7 linked regions of the Homo sapiens genome follow. The protein of the gene in region 1 purifies or fractionates together with the protein of each later gene. This does not show direct contact. Each region holds a gene or a part of one and is shown in the gene's direction. Other genes may lie near its edges. The genes, in order: RDH11, HK1, PYGM, SLC18A2, PCDHGB4, TACR1 and CIB2.

What was found.
Region 2: the proteins of RDH11 (region 1) and HK1 purify together in Homo sapiens (co-immunoprecipitation; one large-scale study listed by IntAct). This does not show direct contact.
Region 3: the proteins of RDH11 (region 1) and PYGM purify together in Homo sapiens (affinity purification with mass spectrometry; one large-scale study listed by BioGRID and IntAct). This does not show direct contact.
Region 4: the proteins of RDH11 (region 1) and SLC18A2 purify together in Homo sapiens (co-immunoprecipitation; one large-scale study listed by IntAct). This does not show direct contact.
Region 5: the proteins of RDH11 (region 1) and PCDHGB4 purify together in Homo sapiens (co-immunoprecipitation; one large-scale study listed by IntAct). This does not show direct contact.
Region 6: the proteins of RDH11 (region 1) and TACR1 purify together in Homo sapiens (co-immunoprecipitation; one large-scale study listed by IntAct). This does not show direct contact.
Region 7: the proteins of RDH11 (region 1) and CIB2 purify together in Homo sapiens (co-immunoprecipitation; one large-scale study listed by IntAct). This does not show direct contact.

What each region holds. Positions count from the first base shown.
Region 1 is NC_000014.9:67,689,265-67,692,764, reverse strand, and holds part of RDH11 (retinol dehydrogenase 11), read left to right. Parts: intron 1-171; coding exon 172-327; intron 328-1,520; coding exon 1,521-1,625; intron 1,626-2,343; coding exon 2,344-2,553; intron 2,554-3,500. UniProt on the Homo sapiens protein: Retinol dehydrogenase with a clear preference for NADP. Displays high activity towards 9-cis, 11-cis and all-trans-retinol, and to a lesser extent on 13-cis-retinol.
Region 2 is NC_000010.11:69,377,847-69,381,346, forward strand, and holds part of HK1 (hexokinase-1), read left to right. Parts: intron 1-2,015; coding exon 2,016-2,249; intron 2,250-3,500. UniProt on the Homo sapiens protein: Catalyzes the phosphorylation of various hexoses, such as D-glucose, D-glucosamine, D-fructose, D-mannose and 2-deoxy-D-glucose, to hexose 6-phosphate (D-glucose 6-phosphate, D-glucosamine 6-phosphate, D-fructose 6-phosphate, D-mannose 6-phosphate and 2-deoxy-D-glucose 6-phosphate, respectively).
Region 3 is NC_000011.10:64,745,898-64,749,974, reverse strand, and holds the end of PYGM (glycogen phosphorylase, muscle form), read left to right. Parts: intron 1-2,616; coding exon 2,617-2,751; intron 2,752-2,987; coding exon 2,988-3,054; intron 3,055-3,166; coding exon 3,167-3,316; 3' UTR 3,317-3,577; downstream 3,578-4,077. UniProt on the Homo sapiens protein: Allosteric enzyme that catalyzes the rate-limiting step in glycogen catabolism, the phosphorolytic cleavage of glycogen to produce glucose-1-phosphate, and plays a central role in maintaining cellular and organismal glucose homeostasis.
Region 4 is NC_000010.11:117,254,614-117,258,113, forward strand, and holds part of SLC18A2 (synaptic vesicular amine transporter), read left to right. Parts: intron 1-663; coding exon 664-753; intron 754-865; coding exon 866-909; intron 910-983; coding exon 984-1,044; intron 1,045-3,183; coding exon 3,184-3,279; intron 3,280-3,500. UniProt on the Homo sapiens protein: Electrogenic antiporter that exchanges one cationic monoamine with two intravesicular protons across the membrane of secretory and synaptic vesicles.
Region 5 is NC_000005.10:141,390,698-141,394,197, forward strand, and holds part of PCDHGB4 (protocadherin gamma-B4 isoform 1 precursor), read left to right. Parts: intron 1-1,935; exon of another isoform or gene 1,936-2,116; coding exon of another isoform or gene 2,117-3,500. Other genes in the region: PCDHGA8 (protocadherin gamma-A8 isoform 1 precursor), read left to right, coding at 2,117-3,500. UniProt on the Homo sapiens protein: Potential calcium-dependent cell-adhesion protein. May be involved in the establishment and maintenance of specific neuronal connections in the brain.
Region 6 is NC_000002.12:75,123,021-75,126,520, reverse strand, and holds part of TACR1 (substance-P receptor), read left to right. Parts: intron 1-3,500. UniProt on the Homo sapiens protein: This is a receptor for the tachykinin neuropeptide substance P. It is probably associated with G proteins that activate a phosphatidylinositol-calcium second messenger system.
Region 7 is NC_000015.10:78,104,106-78,107,445, reverse strand, and holds the end of CIB2 (calcium and integrin-binding family member 2), read left to right. Parts: intron 1-1,511; coding exon 1,512-1,707; coding exon of another isoform or gene 1,708-1,798; exon of another isoform or gene 1,799-2,107; intron 2,108-2,113; coding exon 2,114-2,135; 3' UTR 2,136-2,840; downstream 2,841-3,340. UniProt on the Homo sapiens protein: Calcium- and integrin-binding protein that plays a role in intracellular calcium homeostasis. Acts as an auxiliary subunit of the sensory mechanoelectrical transduction (MET) channel in hair cells.

The sequences.
Region 1 (3,500 bases):
AATGAATATTATTAATTTATTTTTCTTTACCTATTTGCTAATCAGATACCTCTGTTGTGAAGAAAGGGTAAAAATGTGTGTTTTTTAAAAAAATGTTGGAAATAACATTAGATTTATAATGCCAGCTCAAAAACAGAGCTGACCATTTCTCTTTCATATGTTGGCTGACAGGAGCTCGAGTATATTTAGCTTGCCGGGATGTGGAAAAGGGGGAATTGGTGGCCAAAGAGATCCAGACCACGACAGGGAACCAGCAGGTGTTGGTGCGGAAACTGGACCTGTCTGATACTAAGTCTATTCGAGCTTTTGCTAAGGGCTTCTTAGCTGGTAAGTGTAGAACTAGAGAGACTATGTTGTGGGTCTTGAGGTCAACATGGCAGATTCAACTAAAAGGAAAAGGTCCCTCTTCCTCATAGAAGTGGTGGATAAAATATAGCCAAAAACTTCTGTAGCTGAACTCATAGTCACTGGGACACAATTTATGTCAAAGGGATATCTTCCAGAGGCAGAAACAAAAAATGAATTCAAAACGTCATAGCAGTGAGTAAGAGCTGAAGCCAGAAATCTCATGGGAGTCTCAGCACTCAGTACAGGCTTTTTAGGGTCTGGGGTCTAAATACTTACACAGGGATAGGAGATGAGGCCACAGGCCTTTGAGAGCTGGAGCTGTATTTGAGGTTCTACACAAAGTTGAGATTCACAAAGGGCCATCTGGTCCATAGTATAGAAGCTAATAAAAATCCTGGCCACCAGCTCAGAGACATGACAAAGAAGTTTACCATCTCTTTAGACATAGATGGATACTTACCTGCAAAAAATTAGAACCCGAGCTGGCATCATGTGTGGGGTCTGAATTCGTACCACCAAATGATATGAGGATATTTATGGGTTTGATTTTTGTATGTGTGTGTAATACTCTATGGAAAATTAACGTAAAAACCTGTAGTGTCTCATCAAAAGCAAATCCAAGAGCACTCTATAGGCATATCCCCTTATAGCCCAGGGATCTAGGCCTCCAAGGAAAAAGCTTTCACTGGTGTGAACTCATAGTCATAAATTACAAACCACATGAGGAAATGAACCATGAGAGAGAATTGGAAGATGCAATAAAGAGGTGAAGCCAGTATTTATTTCTTTGGGGACCTGAATCCCAGGGCAGAGGTACATAGAGAACATTCTTTTTTCTCTTGCTTTGGAATCTTTCCATTCAGCTTGGGAAGTCTTTTTATTGAGAGAGGTGGATGCAACAATTCCCAAAAGCAGTGAGTAAGTAGCTCCTGAACTACAAGGATCTGGAAGGTCATTTGGTAGTATAAAATGGAATTCTGCCCCATAGTAAAAGTAGGTGGGATTCAACTAAAGTCTTAAAATGAAAAACAATAGAAAATAAATATGAAGGAAAAATGGAGGGAAGATTGAAGTCCTGCATCCTCATTTTCAAAGCCTGAGCGTGAGGCAGCTTTCTAAGATGTAATAGCCTTGGCTAGCCACTTCCACGCTCCATCGTCTTGTCCCTGCAGAGGAAAAGCACCTCCACGTTTTGATCAACAATGCAGGAGTGATGATGTGTCCGTACTCGAAGACAGCAGATGGCTTTGAGATGCACATAGGAGTCAACCACTTGGGTAAGAAATCTGGCCTTATCACAAAGCTAGAGAGACCCAAAATTCTCTTTGGGAAACTTAGGGGTCAGATTGAGGCTTCTTGTTGTGTGATTGAACCTCAGGACCATAATAGACCATGTGTGCATAATAGTTTGGTCCTACCTGATAGCTGAGGAATACCTGAGGGCTGCTCCAGGTTCTGCCCGCTTTTTAATCTGTGATTTAGATTTGGTTTGCCTTGGCGCATTTTTTAACAGACTAATTGGTTTAGGGGACTGTGTTGCTTTCTTAGTAGTGATCCTTGTGGCCAGCATCAGGTATAGGTCATCTGCTCTTTTTTTGTAAAGACAGGGTCTTGCTATGTTGCCCAGGCTGTACTTAAACTCCTGGCCTCAGGCACCTTCCTGCCTCAGCCTCTTTAAGTGCTGAGATTACCGGCGTGAGCCACCGCACCCAGCCAACCAGCTCTTAAGAATGAGATTAACCAAAGTAGGAATGAGCTGGGACTTCATATTCACATAGTCTAGACCTATCTCGCTCATATAAGGATGCCTCATGTCTTTGGCTGTTGTTATTTCCCTAAACCTTCATTAAACTTGTTTTCTAGTTGATAATGAAAAGTTGGAGGGAAAGACCTTATTTCTGAATTATCTGCCTCCCATAGGTGAGGCCTGCTCACCACGACTCCTGTCATTCCTACATGGCCCTGAACTTCATTAATTCTAGTATTTCTCAACAGGTCACTTCCTCCTAACCCATCTGCTGCTAGAGAAACTAAAGGAATCAGCCCCATCAAGGATAGTAAATGTGTCTTCCCTCGCACATCACCTGGGAAGGATCCACTTCCATAACCTGCAGGGCGAGAAATTCTACAATGCAGGCCTGGCCTACTGTCACAGCAAGCTAGCCAACATCCTCTTCACCCAGGAACTGGCCCGGAGACTAAAAGGTGGGCCTAGAGGAAATGAATGTGGAGACATGAGTCAGAGAGAGGCAGGTAAAAGCCACAGGAATGGAAACTGTTTCCAGAGCCCATCACCTGGAGAGGACCTGCTTCCGTGGCTATAATTGGGTACAGTTTTAGTAAGTAGTCTACAACTGAATATTGGAGGTGGCTGGCTGGGACAGTGAGACTCTGACTTTGAGTCTGAAGGCCTGGCTTTACTACTTACTAGCTGTGTGATCTATAGCAAGTTACTTAACTTTTTTTTTTTTTGAGACGGGATCTTGCTCTGTCACCCATGCTGGAGTGCAATGGTGCAATCTCGGCTCACTGCCGACCTCCACTTCCCAGGTTCAAGTGATTCTCCTGCCTCAGCCTCCTGAGTAGCTGGGACTACAGGTGCGTGCCACCAGGCCTGGCTAATTTTTGTATTTTTAGTAGAGACAGGATTTCACCATGTTGGTCAGGGTGGTCTTGAACTCGTGACCTCAGGTGATCCACCCACCTTGGCCTCCCAGAGTGCTGGGATTTTAGGTGTGAGCCACCGCACCTGGCCATTACTTAACTTTTAGGACTTCCTTCTTCATATGTAAATGGGACTACTTCACAGTTTATTGTCATAATTAATTCAGGCTTCATAAGCAAGTCAAGATTTTTTACTCACAGTGAGACTGAGTATGAGGGAAGGACCTGAACTGGCACTAGATAAAGGCAGTAGACTAAAACAGGTACTGGGAATATGGAGGGGCAGGGTCTCCCTTGCAAAGCATCAAATAAGAGGGAAATATATGCTTGAGAAGGGGAATTTCCAGTCACAAATACACAGAGGTCCTTAGCACTGTCTACTCTGGATTTCTAATAAAGAGAAGGGAAATCGAGGGTGAACTGTGCTAGGAATTGAGGCAGGCAGAATGCAGGCTCAAGGAATCAGGCACAGGTGCCCTATAGTTGGA
Region 2 (3,500 bases), on another chromosome or scaffold:
CGTGCAAGTTTGAGAAACACCGGTTAACAGATGAGACAGGACAGTTAGAAGGAAGGACAGAGCCAGCCAGCAACTAACTGTAGCCCCTTGGCATCACACAAGAAACCCGGGATTCTCTGTCTCCTTGTGAAGATTTGCATCAGCTCTCTTTGAGGTTAGAGAAGGCAGCTGCTGGAAGAGGAAAGGGGTTTATCTGGACCAACTCTTCTGCCAAATCCATGTGCTGGAGTTTGTTGTATGATCACTCTCCTGAGTTTCCAGCTGTCCCTTTTCATGAGTCTCCTGGTCAGTGGCTGGGAAGGAAGGGGAGCGGGAGACTCGTGGATTGTCTTGAAAATCACTGGCCAAGTCAGGAAATGCATGCCTTCCTCTTGGCCTGTTTCTGGTATTGACTCTTTGGTTACCAAGAAACACAAACCCAGCTAGCTCAAGAAAGCATGTATATTATAATAAAGGCTATCTCAAAAAAAAAAAAACTATAAAAACATCCTACAAGAGCAGATGTTAGAGGCATTCTCTAAAATCAGGAGCGAGACAGTATCACCAGTTTCTATTTGGCATCGTACTGGAGTCTTAGCCAGTGGGTTTTCGTTTTTGTTTTTGTTTTTAAAGAAAAGACGAGAGATAAATTAAAGGTATGAGAATCAAAAAAGAAGTGAAACTGTCATTATTTGCAAATGGTAAAAGTCTATATGGAATACCCCCAAAATATCTACAGACAAATGAATAGAATGACGGGAGAGGTTAAAAAGATGTCTGGATGGGGTTTCACCTTGTTGGCCAGGCTGGTCTCAAACTCCTGACCTCAGGTGACCCTCCCACTTTGGCCTCCCAAAGTGCTGGGATTACAGGTGTGAGCCACTGTGCCCAGCCCCCATCCTCTTCTATCATTTTTAAAATCTCTTCTCCCATCATAAAATTAATTTCTCTCATATTTTTTGGTCAGGTAGAATTGGGAAAGTCCCACACTCTCCTATTCTCGTATTACCTTAACATCCCAAGCTTCCTTTCCTTTTTTGGTCTTTATGAATATATTTATATGGACAGAATTAAGATAAACAAAATTGATTTCCCCATTCTCTCACTTCCCCATCTTGTCTTCCTAGACCCCACAGAGTTAAAACTTGGGACTCCCCCGACCCTCCCAGAACACTTGTATATTGTTTGTTTGAGGTTCGTGCCGCAGTAACAGACACAGTATTTGATTGCACATACAGATGTTTGCTGGGTATATTCACTGTACATTTTATTTAATCTGGTTTTTTGTTTGGGGGTTATTTGGGGCGAGGTTGGTTTTGTTTTTAAATATTAAAAAAAATCTGTCAAAAAAAGATGTCTGGAGATAAGATACAGAAGTCAACTGTATTTCTATCAGCAATAATAAAAATATGTACATATTTTAAAACACATTTTTAAGAATAATTTTAGATTTACAGGAAAGCTGCAAAGATAGAGTGTATGTATATGTGTTTGTGTGTATGTGTGAGTGTATATGTATGCCTGTATGTATACATATATATTTTAAAGGCACCATTTGCAGCAATAACAAAACTATAAAGTACTTCAGAATGAATCCAACAAAAGATACACAAAACACGTGTACAGAAAATTACAATTTCACTGAGAGACATCAAGGAAGGATGTATAAGCATCCAGGGGCAACTCACAGACCCCACGAGTGGGAGGTTCTCCTGAGCCTCATGAGCCCTGGGTGGTGGCAGCCATTTCGCCACCTGTTCAGAGGCCACATAGTCTTGCCTCTCCACTTCTCTTCATGGTCCTGGCTTGGCATAGTGCAACCTGGTACAGTTTTTCCTATCACTACCTGGCATTTCTTATGGAGGAGAACCCTTCCTGGGCTCTTCTCAGGCATTTGACAGTCTTCATCCCATACCATCCCATACCATCCCACACATGGTAAGTGGGGCTGTCCCTTTCCAGCACCTTTGAGCCTCAGTGCTTTGCACTGCCTCATGTGGTCCTCAGTGCATCAGTATTGGCTTCTAACTTCACAGGAATAAGGAAGGCCTCCACAATGCCAAAGAAATCCTGACCCGCCTGGGAGTGGAGCCGTCCGATGATGACTGTGTCTCAGTCCAGCACGTTTGCACCATTGTCTCATTTCGCTCAGCCAACTTGGTGGCTGCCACACTGGGCGCCATCTTGAACCGCCTGCGTGATAACAAGGGCACACCCAGGCTGCGGACCACGGTTGGTGTCGACGGATCTCTTTACAAGACGCACCCACAGTGAGTCTGCCCTTTGCTATCATTGGCACTCTGTACCCATTGTGGGTAGGGACCTTCTCCAGAGATCAGACTTTTGTACCCGGTAAACGTTTTTCGGCAGACAAGACAATGGTGGTCGGGGGCTGTGGCTCATGCCTGTAATCTTAGCACTTTGAGAGGCCGAGGCAGGAGGAAGGAGTTTGAGAACAGCCTGGGCAACATAGTAAGACCTCATCTTTACGAAAAATTGAAAATAAATAAATAGATAAATAACATGCTTAGTTCTGGGCATAAGGTCAGCGTCGCCCCCTTGGGAAGTATCGCCCTTAGTCGATTCTTGCTGGTATTGCTTCTGCACTCTGTCGTTACCTCGCCCTGTCAAAAGTCGAGATGGAGATTTCTGTAGCTGTCGGCTCCTCTGGGTGGAATGTGTCTGTCTCTCGTCCGCATTTCATCAGGAGGACCTTGGGTCATAGGTGTGGTACCCACATTCTTGTTTCAGAAGCTCCTGTTAAAACCCCCCAAACCCTCAGACTTTACTTTTTTAAATGGGCAGCTTGTCTGTGCTTGGCCTCTGAGAGCTGGAGCTGCAGGAGCTGTAAGTTGTCCCCATTGGCAAGGAGGTGCTTTGTTCCCCACACAGCCTTCTGGTCTGTCAGTGGCCCCAGCCAGTCCTCATGCCATCTCACCTTAGTTTTAGAAGCCATGTTGTCCTGTGAGAACGTGGCTTATACTTTTTTTAAAAGGCTAAAGGGAAATTCTAAGTCATTATTTAATAAGTTTTAATGCTAGCCTGTGACATGATTGTTTTGCACAGGACCTCAGAGTTGTTTCCCACTGTACATATAAATACAATGTGCATGTGAAGCACCCATGTCAGTACTGCACCTTCACACCCAGTTCTGTTGATGGCTCAAAGAATGTCGACTTCAATTGAAATAGTTCTGGCCTGGCATGGCAGCTCACACTTGTAATCCCAGCACTTTGGGAGGCTGAGGCAGGTGGATTGCTTGAGCCCAGGAGTTCGAGACCAGCCTGGGCAATGTGGCTCTACAAAAAATCATACACAGCTGGGTGTGGTGGTGTGCCTATAATCCCAGTTACTTGGGAGGCTGAGGTGGGAGGATCACTTGAGCATGGGGGTGCAGAGGTTGCAGTGACCTGATGTGCCTCTACACTCCAGCCTGGGGGACAGAATGAGCTCCTGTCTCAAAAAAAGAAAGAGAGAGAAATAGTTTTGTGTTGCTGAGGGGATAGGGTTTGAGCCAAGGA
Region 3 (4,077 bases), on another chromosome or scaffold:
TAAAAATACAAAAAATTAGCCGGGCGTGTTGGCAGGCGCCTGTAGTCCCAGCTGATCGGGAGGCTGAGGCAGGAGAATGGTGTGAATCCAGGAGGCGGAGCTTGCAGTGAGCCGAGATCGCGCCACTGCGCTCCAGCCTGGGTAACAGAGTGAGACTCTGCCTCAAAAAAAAAAAAAAAAATCCTTGCTCCCTGAAAGCCATGGGCAAAAGGGAAATATGGGCACAGTAGTTACAAGGGGCCTATGGTCAGAAACAGTTCTTCAGAGAAGACATTATCCTGGCATTACATTAAAAAATTTTATTTTATTTTATTTTAATGTATTTTTTTTTTTGAGACGGAGTCTCGCTCTGTCACCCAGGCTGGAGTGCAGTGGCGCGATCTTGGCTCACTGCAAGCTCCGCCTCCTGGGTTCACACCATTCTCCTGCCTCTACCTCCCGAGTAGCTGGGACTACAGGCACCTGCTGCCACGCCTGGCTAATTTTTTGCATTTTTAGTAGAGACGGGGTTTCACCATGTTAGCCAGGATGGTCTCGATCTGCTGACCTCGTGATCTGCCTGCCTCGGCCTCCCAAAGTGCTGGGATTACAGGCGTGAGCCACTGCGCCCGGCCTTTTGTTTTGTTTTGAGATGGAGTCTTGCTCTGTCACCCAGGCCGCAGTGCAATGGCACGATCTTGGCTCACCGCAACCTCCACCGCCCGGGTACAAGCGATTCTCCTGCCTCAGCCTCCTGAGTAGCTGGGATTACAGATACCCACCACCACGCCCAGCTAATTTTTGTATTTTTAGTAGAGACGGGGTTTCATCATTTTGGCCAGGATGGTCTCTATCTCCTGACCTCAGGTGATCCACCCTCCTCGGCCTCCCAAGTGCTGGGCTTACAGGGGTGAGCCACTGCGCCTGGCCTATTTATTTTTATGTTTTTGAGACAGAGTCACTCTGTCACCTAGGCTGGAGTGCAATGGCATGATTTTGGCTCACTGCAACCTCCGCCTCCCAGGTTCAAGTGATTCTCTCACCTCAGCCTCCCGAGTAGCTGGGATTACAGGCACCCACCATCACGCCCAGGTAATTTTTGTATTTTTGTAGAGATGGGGTTTCATCATGTTGGCCAGGCTGGTCTTGAACTCCTGACCTCAAGTAATCCACCCGCCTCGGCCTCCCAAAGTGCTGGGTTTACAGGCGTGAGCCACCGCGCCCTGCTTGAATCCTGATATCTTAGCATTGGAGAGAGATTTTCCATGTTATTAGTCTTCAAAAATATTTTAAATGTTTGTATAACATTCCATCCTATGAGCATGTCACAACTTATTTAATCAATTCCATGTGGCTGGACACTAAGGTTAATTTCCGGTTTGTTAAATATTACTGTGATGAGCAACCTTTTAATGTCTACGTCCACATCTGATGATTTCCTTAAGATAATTATCAGAAGGGTGATATTTCTGAGTTAAAAAGTATGAGTTCTTAAGGCTCTTGATACAGATTGCCAAACTGCTTTCCAGAAAGTTTCTCCCAGTTTACACTCCCACAACAGCTTCCCAGAGTTGGCATTAAACACTGAAAGAAGTGTCTCCTGTGAGGCTTCACTAGAAAGCTGGCTGTCCCATGGGCAGGAGGGAGCTGTGAGATGTTGTGAGCATGGTCCCGCATGCTCAGAACGAGGCCTGGAAGAACCCTCTGGCTGCAGGATGGAGACAGTGCTGGAGGGGGCAGGTGGGGGACCACTGTGGGGGCTGACACCATAATGCAGGGAGAGTTGCCTGAGAGTCGCACAAGGGACTAGAGAGTCGCACGAGGGATTAGAGATTTTGTGGGGAGCGCTGGTTTCTGGTTGGAACGGTTAGGTTTTGAGACTGGCCTGTGGAGCGCTTTGAGCCGTGGTGGGGGCGCTGAGGGTCAGCTGAAGGGTTATCTTTTTTTTTTTTTTTGAGATGGAGTCTTGCTCTGTTGCCCAGGCTGGAGTGCAATGGCATGATCTCGGTTCACTGCAACCTCCGCCTCCCGGGTTCAAGTGATTCTTCCACCTCAGCCTCCCGAGGAGCTGGGATTACAGGCACACGACACCATGCCCGGCTACTTTTTGTATTTTTGTAGAGACTGGGTTTCACCATGTTGGCCAGGTTGGTCTTGAACTCCTGACCTCCTCAGATGATCCGCCCACCTCGGCCTCCCAAAGTGCTGGGATTACAGGCGTGAGCCACCATGCCTGGCCCAGTTGAAGGGTTGTACCTGTTAGCTGCTCTTGCTGCCCCAGGGCAAGGCCGGATATGGACTTGGGCTACTGGAGGAGAAAAGCCATTTTGGAGCAAACAAACTGGTTAAGAGACAGCAGTGGCGTGTGGGAGAAAAGAGCTTGTTTGGGGGCCTTGGCTCTAACACTTAGCTTTCTGTATCCTCCGGGCCTCAGTTTCTTCATTCACAAAGGAGGGATGAAAAGCTGAGCAGAGAAGGGGAGTTGCAGGGAGGCCCTGCAGGGGCGATGTGGCAGCCCTGGGGAGCAGCAGGCTGGACCTGGGTTTTGACCCTGGGGCATGGGACTTCTCAGCTTTTCTCTGGAAGAGGAGCCAGGAACCCCTTTCCGGGGAGCTGACCACAGCTCTGTCCTGGCAGGTACAATGCCCAGGAGTACTACGATCGCATTCCTGAGCTTCGGCAGGTCATTGAGCAGCTGAGCAGTGGCTTCTTCTCCCCCAAACAGCCCGACCTGTTCAAGGACATTGTCAATATGCTCATGCACCATGACCGGTGAGCTGGTTGGCCCGGGAATCACTCAGGTGGGGCCGCAGGGCAGATCGAGGCTCAGGTGTGTGGTGGGGAAGCCGGACGCGGGTCCTGGTAGTTGGAGCCAGGCGCCTTTGGAAGCAGCATGACCCTCTAGGTCCCCGGCTGTCCACTGGGACAGGGCAGGCTTGGCCCTTGACCTCATAGAACTTATCCTAGCCCCCTAAAGGAATAGCACATGCCTATCCTTTCCCCTCCAGGTTTAAAGTCTTCGCAGATTATGAAGACTACATTAAATGCCAGGAGAAAGTCAGCGCCTTGTACAAGGTGAGGGGTCCTGGGCCAGGGGTTGGCAGGGCTTTGGTGGCCCTGGTTGGGATGAGGCAGAAGGTGGAGATCCTGCCAGCAGAGTGAACCAGAGCTTCCCTTTGACCTGCAGAACCCAAGAGAGTGGACGCGGATGGTGATCCGGAACATAGCCACCTCTGGCAAGTTCTCCAGTGACCGCACCATTGCCCAGTATGCCCGGGAGATCTGGGGTGTGGAGCCTTCCCGCCAGCGCCTGCCAGCCCCGGATGAGGCCATCTGAGCCTCCAGACCAGACCCCAAACCAGCCCTTGAGTCTGTCACACTCTCTTGGGCCAGCCCCAGCACCTCATGCAGAGGGTGGGGTACTGGAGTTAGATCTCTAAGCCCCTCCTGGAACCCTCATTTTCCCCACTCTCAATGTCCCAGTGTCCAGCGTGACTAAGGACACGGGCCCCCTTCCGTCCTCGGGCTCCCGGTCCCCTCCTATTTATGGGGTCTGACCAACTGCACCCACTCCCTAATAAATTCATTCTCCTTGGGAGCCTCCTTACTCCTCTTTGTTGGGAAATATTTTTAGCTCTTGGCGGGCTCAACAGCAGCCGCGCAGTCACCCCCTTATCCTCCACCCTCGGCAGGTGCGTCCCACGGCGGGACGGTGATGGGAGGTGGAGGGGGCGACCCGTGGGGGCGGGGCCTAGGCCTCTCCAGCCCCTTTCCTGGCGTCACCCTCCACGCCTCTCTTCCCAGTGCCGTGTCCATACTAGGTCAGCGGCCAGCCTCGCTGGCCGGGGGCGGGGCGTCTGCCTGGGTGGGGCCCACCGGGGCTGGGAGCCGGGACTTGGGCTGAGGCTTCCCGGACCACGGAGGATCCGCGCTGTCGAGGGCAGGACCCAGGAGGGGGAGGAAGCAGAGGATGCTCGGCGCCTTCTTGGCTCCGCCCTTAGCCCCGCCCTACTGCGGCGTTTAAGGGTCTCTTAGCAGGTGGCTACACTGGATCCAAAGTCGGGGGAGTGTTACGGCAGGGAACACTCGCAGACCGCC
Region 4 (3,500 bases), on another chromosome or scaffold:
TATTTTTTTCCTTTCCTGCTTTCATGGAGACTTTGAAAAATGGTAGGAAGAGCCCTGAGCTGGGGGTGGAGGGGATCAGGACTTCCCCTGCCTCTGCCCCAAACCTCCCTGGGCCCAGATGGAAAACCAAAGGTTGAACAGGATGGTCTGCCAGACCCTTTCCTCGGGAACATTCAGTGAGTTGTGATCACGGAGAACCTTGCTTTCTGGGTCTGCCTCCCCCAGCTGCCCTGGCTGACTTCCCAGACCAGGGGACAAACATCTTCCCTGAGAGGGATTCAAAACCTTTTCCTTCCTCTTCCGATTTCCCGCCTGCTTCCAGGAGCCTGCAGCCTTGCCTGCGCTGGTGTACAAGGAGCGAAGTCTCTGTTTACACATTTTCCTGTGCAGTGGAAGCAGCCCAGCCCTGGGCCTGGATCTTGTTTCTCTCGGGCCTTTGCTTTCAGGGTGACCTTTATAGACTCCTGCCCATTTCTTAGGAAAAGGCACTTGGAGGAAGTTGCCAAGACAACTGAACTCTAACCGAACAGAACAATAGGGCAGCCACCCCAAAGCCTTATTGGAACAAAGTAGAGAGAGAAACACAAGAGTCAAATAGATGGTTCTAGTACAGGGAGAGGGCATGTGTCCCAGGGGTGGTGTCCCCACTTTCTCTCCCTGCAGTGGGCCCCCCCTTCGGGAGTGTGCTCTATGAGTTTGTGGGGAAGACGGCTCCGTTCCTGGTGCTGGCCGCCCTGGTACTCTTGGATGGAGGTGAGTGAGTCCACGTGGGCGCCATGCCATGACCTTGGCATCGTGCTGGCACGCGCTTGGGCCACACCTGCTTTCTGAAGAGGGGCTTGTCTTTTTTATTTTTATTTTTTAGCTATTCAGCTCTTTGTGCTCCAGCCGTCCCGGGTGCAGCCAGAGGTAAGCGGCTGGGAATGAGGGCCCTGGGGGAGGGGGCATGGTGCTGCTTCTGACCCGTGTTTTTTTCTTGACAGAGTCAGAAGGGGACACCCCTAACCACGCTGCTGAAGGACCCGTACATCCTCATTGCTGCAGGTGGGGCTCTGTGGGTCTTCTGAGTCAGGGGAATGCGAGGTGATGGCCGCGTGCTGGAGGCAGGGGTGGATGGCCAGGGCTGATTTTCGTTTTGCTGCTAGAAATGTTGGGCTATATAAAAAAACAGAAAAGGCAAAGAGGCTACAAGTCAAAGGAAATGGTTTTCTTCCGCCATTGCTTTCTGACACTCAGCCAAGGCCCTTTTTGTCTCATTTGGGGAAAATCAAAATGGCGTATGCTGGGCTCTGCAGAGCTGCCTGGGTCCTGGGGATGCCCGGCTGGGTTTGTTTGGAGCTAAGCTTGCCCACTGTGTTTGTATGGAAGGCCATCATTGTTTGGCCTTGAACTTTCCGGAAGGAGTCCTTGGCCTCAAGGCAAGGGTCCCCGGTGGGCAGTCTGACTCACCTTGGCATATATGAATAGAAACTGACAGCAGAGCCCCACAGGGACCAGAGGGGCTCCCTTCTTGCAGAGAGCATCCCTGCCGAGCAGCAGGGAGGCCGTTCAAACACCCTTTGGCTAAAGGACATGCTTTGGCCTAGAGGGGCTAAAAGAAAGCACTGGGGTTTTGTGACTCTTGGGAAGGATAATGGTCTGCATCTATCCAAGGGACTGTTCCCCAAGACTGTCCCAGTGGTAGGAGGCTGCCTGCTTTGCCAGGCCCCGGGCTGCCTAACCAGGGACCAGCCTTGTGTAGGTGTTGCTGGGCCTCAGTACCAAGGTAAGCAGACCCTTGGGGTCAGGCCAGGAGAAGGTCTGGCTGCGCGCTGATGTGTTGGTCTCTGGGGCAGCCTGCACTGTAGCACTAGACCCAGTTAGGGTTAGACTTGTCTAAGCACGGCTCCCTAACACAGGTAGGCTGGAGGGCGCCTGGGAGAACTGGGCACCAGTAGTTAAGTTCAGCCTTTGTCAACCCTCAGGCTGGTTTTGTTTAACCCTTCTGCTGCTGGATTTGATTAGGGCAGCAGGTATGTAACCCTGGCCAAGACCCTGTCTATCATGCTTGCTGGCCAAAGGGATATGGAGGTGGCATGGTGACTTATTCATGCAGTGACGTCTGCAAGATGCAGGGGGCATCCCAGAGCTCAGATGCTTCTGGAACCCTGGCATCTGAGGTGGGGACGAGGAGGTATGGTGAGGGACGGGGGCTCCAGAAATGTGACTTCCTGAACCTCGGGCACGTCTGAGCAGGGCTGTGCAGCCTGGGCCTGTCCTGTCTTGGGCTTCCCTGGAACCTCACTGCCTAGTACCTGCTCACAGGAGACACAAAGATGCTACCCAGCACTCCTGGACTGTCATCGACACTTCCAGACAGCCCGACTGGGGAAGGGAGTTGAGAGCCAAGTGGCTGTCCACTTGAGGGGAGTCCTGCCATTGATATGCTCTGCCTTTAAGTGTCATGTCGAATGAACAGACCTTTCTTCACCATATGTGCACCTTCATCACGATTGCACAATATTCTTTGAATTTGTTGTAGCAAATTAGAGGTTCCAAGAGGCACAACACGGGAAGTTCCCAGAACGATGGAGAACAGTTCCGTGGGTCTTTTTCCAGATAGTTCTATATTTACAAAGGGTTCTGGTTAAGAGATCATGAATATTTGCATAGGTGCCCTTATGTACCGCTGAACCCCGCCCCCTCCACCTAACGGCATGCCTGTACTGAATGCACCTGATCCTGCTTGGATTTTCTGGCATTTCTAGGTATCATTAGAAATGCCCACGTATATTGCACAGTAAAACACAGATGCGAGAGCCTCAGGCTGCCCCGAGACTGTGTGTGGTCTGGAAGTGGCCTGATTGCTGGGTGGCCCCAAGCAAGCTACTGCATTAATAAACTGGGCTTCCTTTCTTCATTGATAAAACCATAATTGGGTAGGTTAAACCAAAGGAACTCTAGGGCTGCCTCCAGTCCAAACTTTGTCTCTGGGATTCTAGTTGTTTAAAATGAGGACGACGACGACCATGATGATGATGATTATGATAAACAGCCTTTGCTGTCCCCTTGATATGCGATTTATCCTTTACTTAATGAAAGTAGAAGTTGCGGTTATCTGAGCTGTAGGCGCATGGAGTCTAACTGTGCCTGGAAATGAGAGAGGAGGCAGAAGCCACTACAAAGCCCTTTCCTCCCTTACAGGCTCCATCTGCTTTGCAAACATGGGCATCGCCATGCTGGAGCCAGCCCTGCCCATCTGGATGATGGAGACCATGTGTTCCCGAAAGTGGCAGCTGGGTAAGGACTGGGGTGGGCTCTTCTGATTCAAGAGCATTTGTCCCCAGGGCAGCCTTTGTCCCCAGGGCATCCCTGCTGAGTTGCCCTTATGGGGATGATAAAGTGATTGCTTCTGTTTGACTCTTAATGGGGTCATTGCTTAGGGCAGCCTTGGGGTCTGTTTGTTCTCTGGTTTATCCATCATCCCTGAGGGGTGCAGAACTCACACAGACACATCAGAT
Region 5 (3,500 bases), on another chromosome or scaffold:
ATTCAACACTTTTCTTAACTAATTTAACTGGTATGGTCTCCATAGTAGTCCACTGTTTTGTTTCCTGTGTTAACTTCCCTTTTGTTTCAAAAGCTCTTAGAATAAGGAGTCAACTGGATTTTTATGTCCATGGACCCCTTGTGATTATATGCAGTGTACGCTGTGTGTGCGTGTGTGTGTGTGTGTGTGTGAGAGAGATCCTTTTACTTAGAAAAAGGTCTACTATGCTCATTAGAAGATCAAAAGCAGATTCTCCTTACTTGTAACATAGGAGTTTCAGGATTAATCTGTATTCAAGCTCATTCTATATCCTTCATCAAAGAAAAGACAATGTTTTGTGTCTGTTGTCCCTCTCACACACAGCCCTAATATATAATGTGTAACTGCCTTATCTGCAGCCCTAAACTAATATAGCTAGAGGTCTTCTAATCATTCTCCTACCTCTAGGAAAGAAATATAGTCTTGAAAACTGCCAATCTGGTGTGCATACAAAATATATACAAAATACCAAGGAACATTATATGAGCCTTTTGCTAGGTATATCTAAGCAACTGCTTCAGTTAATGGCCACTTTACAAATTGCTGAAAGAAGGAAACGTCTTTCGATTCTTTTTTTTTTCTTTTTTTTTTTTTGAGACAGAGTCTCTGTCTGTTACTCAGGCTGTAGTGCAGTGGCACAATGATAGCTCCCTCCAGCCTCAAACTCCTGGGCTCAAGCATTCCTTCTGCATCAGCCTCCTGACTAGCTGGAACTCAGGCTCATGCCACCAGACCTGGCTAATTTTTCTGTTTTCAGTAGAGAAAATATTTTCTTTCACTAATTTAACTGGTATGGTTTCCATTGTCTACCCAGTTTTCCATATGCATAAGAAAATATATTCACAGGAAAATATAAAGTTTTCAGATTTCATGAGTGGTTTTAAGAAAGTTTTAGTCAGTGAAAAAACTATCATACCAGTCTTCAAAGGAAGGGTGAAATAAGTTCATCTGCTACGTTGCCCAGGCTGGTCTTGAAGGGAAACAGACTTTTTTGTAGTCATACTTATCCTTTGGCTTCTTAGTAAGTATTATATAGTCATTACTTTTTGCAGTTTTTTAGATCAAAGTGTTAATGTAGGTAAAGTTAATTTTAGAATATATGTAAAAGTCAAGTCTGCTTTAAATTTAATCATCTCTTTGGTGAAAGGGATGGGATGGAGCTTTGCTTTTTATCATATATTCATCTGTACCTTTCAAGTATTCAAATAGAAAAATATAAACAATGTAAATAAAATAGCAAAACAATGTAATATCTCATAAAACTGCAATGGTAAAAGCATTTATCCTATTGAAATTCCACAATTTTTATTTGAAAATATTATCGACATGTAATTCAAGTGGCATTTAGAAGAATAATTTAAAAGCAACAACTCTATAGAAAGCTTGTAAAATGATTAAGTAGTTTAAACCAAATAAAACAATTTCTGAGTCAGTCATCTCCAGTAGGTCTATTTTAGTCTCAAGATAAATTCATTTCTGGTGACAACTGAAGTTCTTAGTTATTTGTTAGTATATATTGGAGACATTTACAATAAAGCTTAGAGCACAATGGGAAATGAAAGTATCATGTTTTTTTTAAGACCAAATGTATTGCAGAAATGTGAGTAATTTAATCCGATGCTACAATCTGATCATTCTGATCTAATCTGATCATTTAATAACACTAAATAAAACCTTCATCTCACATTCTTTGGCTGTTTCTTTTAAAATATGGGTTTACGGATAAATCAAATAAATTCAAAACAAAGTAATAAGCAAATGATTTTTTTTTCTCAGTAATCTAGTAGAGTATTACATTTAGAAGTAATCTGTATCTCAGTGCAGTAACTATTTAGGACTGTAAGCGCCGCTGTTCACCTACTGGAAGACAAATGCAACCGAAAACACTCAGATCTCACACCTCACGAAGACCCGCAGATGCCACAAACTAACTGCTGGACTGCAGCGAAACCCGACCCCTGTTTGGAGGCACTCCAGGTTTCCGGAGGATTGTCATCTCCATAGCTGCGGCAAGAAACTAAATAAGACCCATTTATGCACAGTGAAGATTCTGAGAGGATTCTGCAGCAAAACAACAATGGCCGCTCCACAGAGTCGCCCCAGACGCGGCGAGCTGATCCTGCTGTGCGCGCTGCTGGGAACGCTGTGGGAAATCGGGAGGGGACAGATTCGCTACTCTGTGCCAGAAGAGACGGACAAAGGCTCCTTCGTGGGTAATATCTCCAAGGACCTGGGGCTGGACCCCCGGAAGCTGGCGAAGCACGGAGTCCGTATCGTCTCCAGAGGTAGGACGCAGCTCTTTGCTCTGAACCCGCGCAGCGGCAGCTTGATCACCGCGGGCAGGATAGATCGGGAGGAGCTCTGCGCTCAGAGCCCGCGGTGTCTGATAAATATTAACACCCTGGTTGAGGATAAAGGAAAACTCTTTGGGGTAGAAATAGAAATAATTGATATTAACGATAATAACCCAAAATTCCAGGTCGAAGATCTAGAAGTAAAAATTAACGAAATCGCGGTTCCTGGAGCACGTTATCCACTCCCAGAAGCTGTTGACCCGGATGTGGGCGTGAACTCCCTCCAGAGCTACCAGCTCAGCCCCAATCACCACTTCTCCCTGGACGTGCAGACTGGAGACAATGGAGCCATAAACCCAGAGCTGGTGCTGGAGCGCGCCCTGGACAGGGAGGAAGAGGCTGCTCACCACCTGGTCCTCACGGCCTCGGATGGCGGCAAGCCGCCTCGCTCTAGCACAGTGCGCATCCACGTGACAGTGTTGGATACAAATGACAATGCCCCGGTTTTTCCTCACCCGATTTACCGAGTGAAAGTCCTTGAGAACATGCCCCCAGGCACGCGGCTGCTTACTGTAACAGCCAGCGACCCGGATGAGGGAATCAACGGAAAAGTGGCATACAAATTCCGGAAAATTAATGAAAAACAAACTCCGTTATTCCAGCTTAATGAAAATACTGGGGAAATATCAATAGCAAAAAGTCTAGATTATGAAGAATGTTCATTTTATGAAATGGAAATACAAGCCGAAGATGTGGGGGCACTTCTGGGGAGGACCAAATTGCTCATTTCGGTGGAAGATGTAAATGACAATAGACCAGAAGTGATCATTACGTCTTTGTTTAGCCCAGTGTTAGAAAATTCTCTTCCCGGGACAGTAATTGCCTTCTTGAGTGTGCATGACCAAGACTCTGGAAAGAATGGTCAAGTTGTCTGTTACACACGTGATAATTTACCTTTTAAATTAGAAAAGTCAATAGGTAATTATTATAGATTAGTGACAAGGAAATATTTGGACCGAGAAAATGTCTCTATCTACAATATCACAGTGATGGCCTCAGATCTAGGAACACCACCTCTGTCCACTGAAACTCAAATCGCTCTGCACGTGGCAGACATTAACGACAACCCTCCTACTTTCCCTCATGCCTCCTACTCAGCGTATATCC
Region 6 (3,500 bases), on another chromosome or scaffold:
TTTCACATTCAAGTCTTTATTCCTTGAAGAGCTAAAATCAGAACTACCATTTGACCCAGCAATCCCATTACTGGGTATATACCCAGAGGAATATAAATCATTTTATTATAAGGATACATGCATGCATATGTTCACTGCAGTACTACTATTCACAATAGCAAAGACATGGAATCAGCCTAAATGCCCATCAATGACAGATGGGATTTTTAAATGTGGTACATATACACCATGGAATACTATATATATAATTCTTCCATAAAAAAGAATGAAATCGTGTATTTTACGGGAACATGAATGGAGTTGGAGGCTATTATCCTTAGCAAACTAACACAGGAACAGAAAATCAAATACCACATGTTCCCACTTATAAGTGGGAACTAAATGATGAGAACTGATGAACACAAAGAAGGAAACAGACACTGGGGTCTACTTCAGGGTGGAGAGTGAGAGGAGGAAGAGAAGCAGAAAAAATAACTATTGGGTACTAGCTTAATATGGGTCATGAAATAATCTGTGCAACAAACCCCTGTAACATGAGTTTATCTATAGAACAAACCTGGCACATGTACCCCTGAACCTAAAATCAAAGCTATAAAAAACTAAGAAAGACTGAATCCTGCACAGTTCCCAACGTATAGTCAACACAAAAGTTAGTCAACAAGTAGGTATTGAGGCTCTATTTAGGGGCTTAATGTCAAGAGATAAAAAATTCTGAAGAGCCAATTCCAGTGAGGTCACTCCTTCAGGATGATCCTGGGTGTCTATATGACAGAAAACACTTTGAGCAATAATTATTCTCACATAACAGTCTTACATGTGTTGAGACTGGGAGGAATAAAGGTATAACATGTATGTTTTTCTCCTTTTACACTTATTTTCACTCAACAAGCATTCATGAAGCCACTGCTATGTGCCAAGATATCATTTATGCAACCAAACTTTCAATGAGTATTTACTACATCCTCAGCACCTGGGCAGGCCAAGGACCTGTGGAGGGTGAAAAGAGAAAAGAAGGATATGCAATTAGAAAAATAAAGGCCCGGCGCGGTGGCTCATGCCTGTAATCCCAGCACTTTGGGAGGCCGAGGACAGTGAATCACTTAAGTTAGGAGTTCAAGACCAGCCTAGCAAACATGGTGAAACCCCTTCTCTACTAAAAATGCAAAAAAATTAGCTAGGCATGGTGGCAGGCACCTGTAATCCCAGCTACTTGGGACACTGAGGCATGAGAATTGCTGGAACCCGGGAGGCAGAGGCTGCAGTGAGCCGAGATCATACCACTGCACTCCAGTCTGGGCAACAGAGCGAGACTCCATCTCAAAACAAAAAAAAGAAAGAATAGAAAAAAAAGAAAAGAAAAGAAAATAGAAAATAAAGTGAAGCGTGGTCAGCACAAGGTTTAGAGATCTTCACAGCAGTAAAGGCAGGCAACAAACACAGCCACAAGGACATGATGACTGGGCCAAGTTGTGAAAATAAACAGGAACAGCCAGGAAGGGATCGAGGAGGAAAAACATCCCAGATTGACCACTGTGCTCACATTAGAACCAGGGTCTTATCTGATTCTTGGTCATGACTGGCCGTAGACCACCTTACTCACTGCTTGTGGGACACAGGAGTTATCTACCCAATGAGTTCCCATCTGCCAAAGGTAAAGAGTGTTTCTGAATATCACACCATCTTCTCCTATGGTTCTAATTCCTCCTGCTCTTCGCTTCCTGTAAACTAGACCAGGGGACAGCAAGCTATGGGCCAGGGACCAAATGCAGCCTACCTCCTGTTTTTGTAAATAAAATGTTATTATCATACAGCCATGCCCAATAGTTTCTTTGCTGTCTGTGGCTGTTTTCACACTACAAAGATAGAGTTTGATAATTACAACTGAAACTATATGGACCACAAAACTCAAAATATGTAATATCTGTCTTTCCCAGAAAAAAATTGCCAACCCTTGAGCTAGACTATAGCAGCCACACTCTCAGCTATTACCACCCTGGTTATCTGAACTCAGGAAGATGTGGTCCCTTAAAGGAAACTTGTAACACCCCAGGAGTGAGTGGGAGAAGTGAGGGCAGAAACTGGAATTGGATGAGAAAGACTGTGGAAGAAGGGCCCCACTGGACAAATCTCATCGTAGAGGAAAGACGTTCTCTCTGCTGAGTGATTTGGGACTGGTATAGCAGGAAGTTATGAAGATACTGCCGCTTGTCAGAGGATTGAAATTCCTTTTCACAATAAGATTGTTTTCACTCTGCCTACAAGAAAAAACAAATGTGCAGCAGAGAGTTCTTTTTATAAAGCATCATCATGCAAGAGGAAGGCTACATCTCAGGTTTTTCAGCTGGGAGGACACATACAATTCAAATCAGTCCTGATGGCCCTCAGTGGGACTGGAACCACCTGAAGTAAAGAACATAATCCATATCCCACACGCCTCCAGATCCCTGTCGCTGGCAGCCTAATGATTAATGCTTACACCAGAAAGACGTTTCATTGACTGCCTTAGAGTCCCACGAGCACGGTGCAGTCAATAAATATTTATTGAATGTATTTTCCTTGGGTTTGCAGCACTTGCTCCGTAATATCTTATAACCAAATAAGCAAGAATTGCTCAGGCTGGTTCCAGATAAATATATAAATGTATGTTAATGAATCCTAGCTAGAAGTGGGGAGTAGGAAAGAAAATATTCATCCATCTGTGTACAGGTTATCCAAATGGTACTAGCTTTTGGGTGAATAAGAAAAAAACATGTTAAACGAGCCCCAGAAATGAGGATTGCAAGAGAGGGATAGAAGAAAGGAGGAAAGAGAGGAAAGGAGGGAAGGAAGGAGGGAGGGAGATTTATAAACACCTCTGTTTTGAACAAATGAACATATATACATTTTTTAAAGCCAGTCTTTTTTATTCTCTCTGGCTTTATGTGGGTAATACTTTCATCTGCCACTAAAATGGCTCCTACACTAAAGAACGGTAGAGAGTTAACTGAAGTGCGTTCCCAAATTGCAATTTTTGCAATAAGGATAAAATATGGCTTTCTGCCACCCATTTGGAGTTACAGTGCCAATACGCTGGTGCAATCCCCCGTAAGCCCAGTCACATTAGATTCTGAATGGTGTATCGCCAATTCGAGCATGGGGAGTGGTGTTAGGATTTGTTTATTTAAGACTGAGCATTTATCCTGAATGAGAAACAAATTAAAATCTTGCATTTGAGGTAATATTAAAAGAGGGCAATGTAATTACCACATTCTCCCCTGAGCATCCTCCTCAAGTTCCTGTGAAGCCTGAGAATGCACAGCTGCCAGTGAGGGTAGGAACTATGCAGTGCTGGAGGTGAGATAAGGCATCTTCACCGCTGCATTTGGGAAATAATCCAACAAGCAATCCTATGGTTTTAATACAAACACTCAAAGAGGTTCTGGCCATGACCATCTGGGTCCAGCCCTTCACTGAATTGGAAAGACGGCAACGATAATGGTTGAACAGGCCCACATGTGTTG
Region 7 (3,340 bases), on another chromosome or scaffold:
AGCAAATCTTTCCAGAGATTTGCTATGTCCCATGCCATGGGCAGAGATGAATACTCCCTGACGCATACCCTAGAGTTGTGCCCAGGCCTCTGCAGAGATAGACAGGGCAGAGTCACCCCAAGAGCTTGGGCTCTAGGGTCCAACAATGACCGGGATGTGACCTCAGGCAGGTACCTCTCCTTTTCACCTCCCTGTTTCTTTTTTTATTTTTGAGATAGAGTCTCGCTCTGTCAACGAGGCTGGAGTGCAGTGGTGCGATCTCAGCTCACTGCAAGCTCCGCCTCCTGGGTTCACGCCATTCTCCTGCTTCAGCCTCCTGAGTAGCTGGGACTACAGGCGTCCACCACCACGCCCGGCTAATTTTTTTTTTTTTGTATTTTTAGTAGAGACGGGGTTTCACCGTGTTAGCCAGGATGGTCTCAATCTCCTGGCCTCGTGATCCACCCACCTCGGACTCGCAAAGTGCTGGGATTACAGGCGTGAACCACCGCGCCTGGCCACCTCTCTGTTTCTTCATGTGTATAGTGGAGATTCAATTGTGCCTGCCTCATAGTTTTGTTTTGAAAATTAAATGAGAAAGAGCATATAATGCTCACATGATGGGTCTTTGTCACTACCATTAATGTCAGAGTTTGCCAATGGGCAACAGAAGCTCATTTGCGGGGAAGAGGACCCTTATCGCTAGAAAGCCCCGCCACTGGGAGGTGATGTGTGAGCCAAAATTTGAAGGATGACCAGGAGTTTGCTGGGAAGGGACCCCAGGCAGAAGAAACAGCACATGCGCAGATCTGGTAGTTGGGCTCAAAATGTAAGAAGAGAGAGTTCACTTTGATGTGGCCAGGCATGGCTCGGTCCTCTGAACCATTTTGCTGTGCTTTGGGGCAGTGGTAGTGCCTTTTGCTGGGTAGAATCAAACCATGTTCCCTGCTCTGTGTGCACAAAGGCCAGGCACAGGCCCCTCTCTAAGGGTCTTTTGATTTTGAGTCTCCTGACCCACCGTGTCTTCTGGTCACACACCACTGAGGCAACGGGGTGCAGTTTAGAAAACATGGGTCTTAGAGTCCCATAGGCCCTAGTCAGAATCCCTGCTCCATCTCCGAGTGGCTCTCCCACCTTGATTCAATCGCATGGCCTTTTTGGGCCTTAGTTTCCTTAGCTCTAGAAGTCTAAAGGGAACACTGGGTCCACTGTGGGCTAAGGCCAGGAAGGGCTATCTGGCCTAAGCCTGAAGTTCTCAGGAAACCTCAGATTTGGACTTTTGACCTGCTTCAGGATGTGGTTTAGTCATTGTGGGGTTGTTGTTGGTGGTGGATGTGGGTGTTTAAGCGATGCCTGGTGGGTAAGCCCTCTTGGGGGCAGGGATCCAGTATCCCAAGAGTGTGCATGGAGATGCTCTGGGGACATCAGAAGCTGGTGGAGGTAGTGGGGCCAGCTAGGAGGAAGAGCTATAGTGTAGGGGTCCCTGGGTGCACGCAGCCTGGACTTGAACATGTCCAACCCCTGCCCTACAGACTTCAACACTGACAACTTCATCTGCAAGGAGGACCTGGAGCTGACGCTGGCCCGGCTCACTAAGTCAGAGCTGGATGAGGAGGAGGTGGTGCTTGTGTGCGACAAGGTCATTGAGGAGGCTGACTTGGACGGTGACGGCAAGCTGGGCTTTGCTGACTTCGAGGACATGATTGCCAAGGCCCCTGACTTCCTCAGGTGCTGCCACTACAGGGGCCGGGCTTGGGCAGGGCAGAGCAGGGCAGGCCGGGATGTTGGGGCTGAGGCCCCTATCACTCGCTATTTGTGAGCAGTGGTGTGCGGCCAGGAAGCAGGAGGTCACGTTCAAGCCACCCTTGCCCTAGACGTGTGACTGGCCTTTGTCCCCTGCAGGGGGAAGGTTGAAGACCTGGGGGCCCCTTCAGTGATAAGTGGGGGCAGAACTCCCTGGGCACCGCTGTTCCTCCGTCTTCCCCCAGTGTTGATTACCTGCATCCACTATGCAGGGTTCCCTAATGAGGCACTGTCCAGCATGGGGCTGGGGCCTGCTGTGCTTTTCCCTGAGGAGCCTTTACCTGCCCGACCCAGGGCCTCTCACCCTCTCTTGCCCTTTCTCTCTTTCTAGCACTTTCCACATCCGGATCTGAGGACACTGCCGAGGCTGTAGGGGCCTAGAAGTCCACCATCCTGCCCTGCAGTCACATGGGTGTGGCCTCCAAGCTCCCCAGGAAAGCAGTGGCAGCCTCTGGGGTTTACACCACAAATATATCCTGTGGCCCTTTCAGCAAAAAAAAAACCTTAACCAGGAAGGGGGCCTGTGAAGGTTAGGACCCTTCCCACAGCCCCGCTGTGGTCCAGCCCCGGGACCCATGGCCTCTCTCCAGGCCCTCCGCACCCCGCCCCATGCCCCAGTCCTTTCCTACTCCAGAAATGCTCCCCACCCCCCCAAAGAGGGAAAAGCAGATAACCCAACAGGAGGTGGTGGGGTCTGACGTGTCCAAGTGCTGGCAGACACCCTGGTCACCCAGGACAGAGCGGAAAAAAAAAAAAGAGGTCAGGGTTTTAACGAGCTATGCAATCTTTTTCCAAAACCCAAGGTTGGGCTGCTTCCCACCCCTGCCTGTTCCCCTTCTCCCGGCCTCCTTCACAATGTGAAGCTGTGGGTGCAGTGGGCCCAAGGGCTCTTGCTCCTGTCTCTGCCTCTGGGTCATGAGTACCACCCTGCCTGCCTCCCCAACACCGTGGAATCCTCACTGGTGTGCTGTCCACAGATTTGTGAACTCCTGGTAGTAAAACACTTTTGCATCCCTTTGCTCTCCATGTATGCTAATGTTAGGAAATGTTTGAGGGTACCTTTGCTTCTGATCCTTGAAATCCCACCATTGGTGTCTCACCTCTCGGCATTAGGCAGTGCCTCCTGCTTTAGGCACTAACTTTGATTTCAGTGCGTGTGCCATCGGGAGGAAAACACATTCATGCCCCGAACCTTCCGTGAATTCCCTGACAGTATCTCTGGTTAACATTTGGGAGTGCTAACCACTCAGGCACAGGGACAGTTGCTTCAGTCTCAATCCTTAAACCCCCAAGGAGGGAGGGACTCTTACAGGCCTATATTTCAGGAAAAGCTGCATAGCCAAGTGGTCACTAAGAGTAGATTTCCCACAAATGCAACCTGAGCCCGCTCTGCCCAGGGTCAGGGCAGGGAGGAGGGGCACGTATGGTGTTCTCTCTGGAGATGATCAGTCCTGTTTTCTGCATCCCAGGCCTGGGGGTTGTTGGGAGTGGGGTAGCAAGCCAGCTGTCCACCCTTATAGAGAAGGGGACATGTGGATAGGAAGGGAAGTGACACACA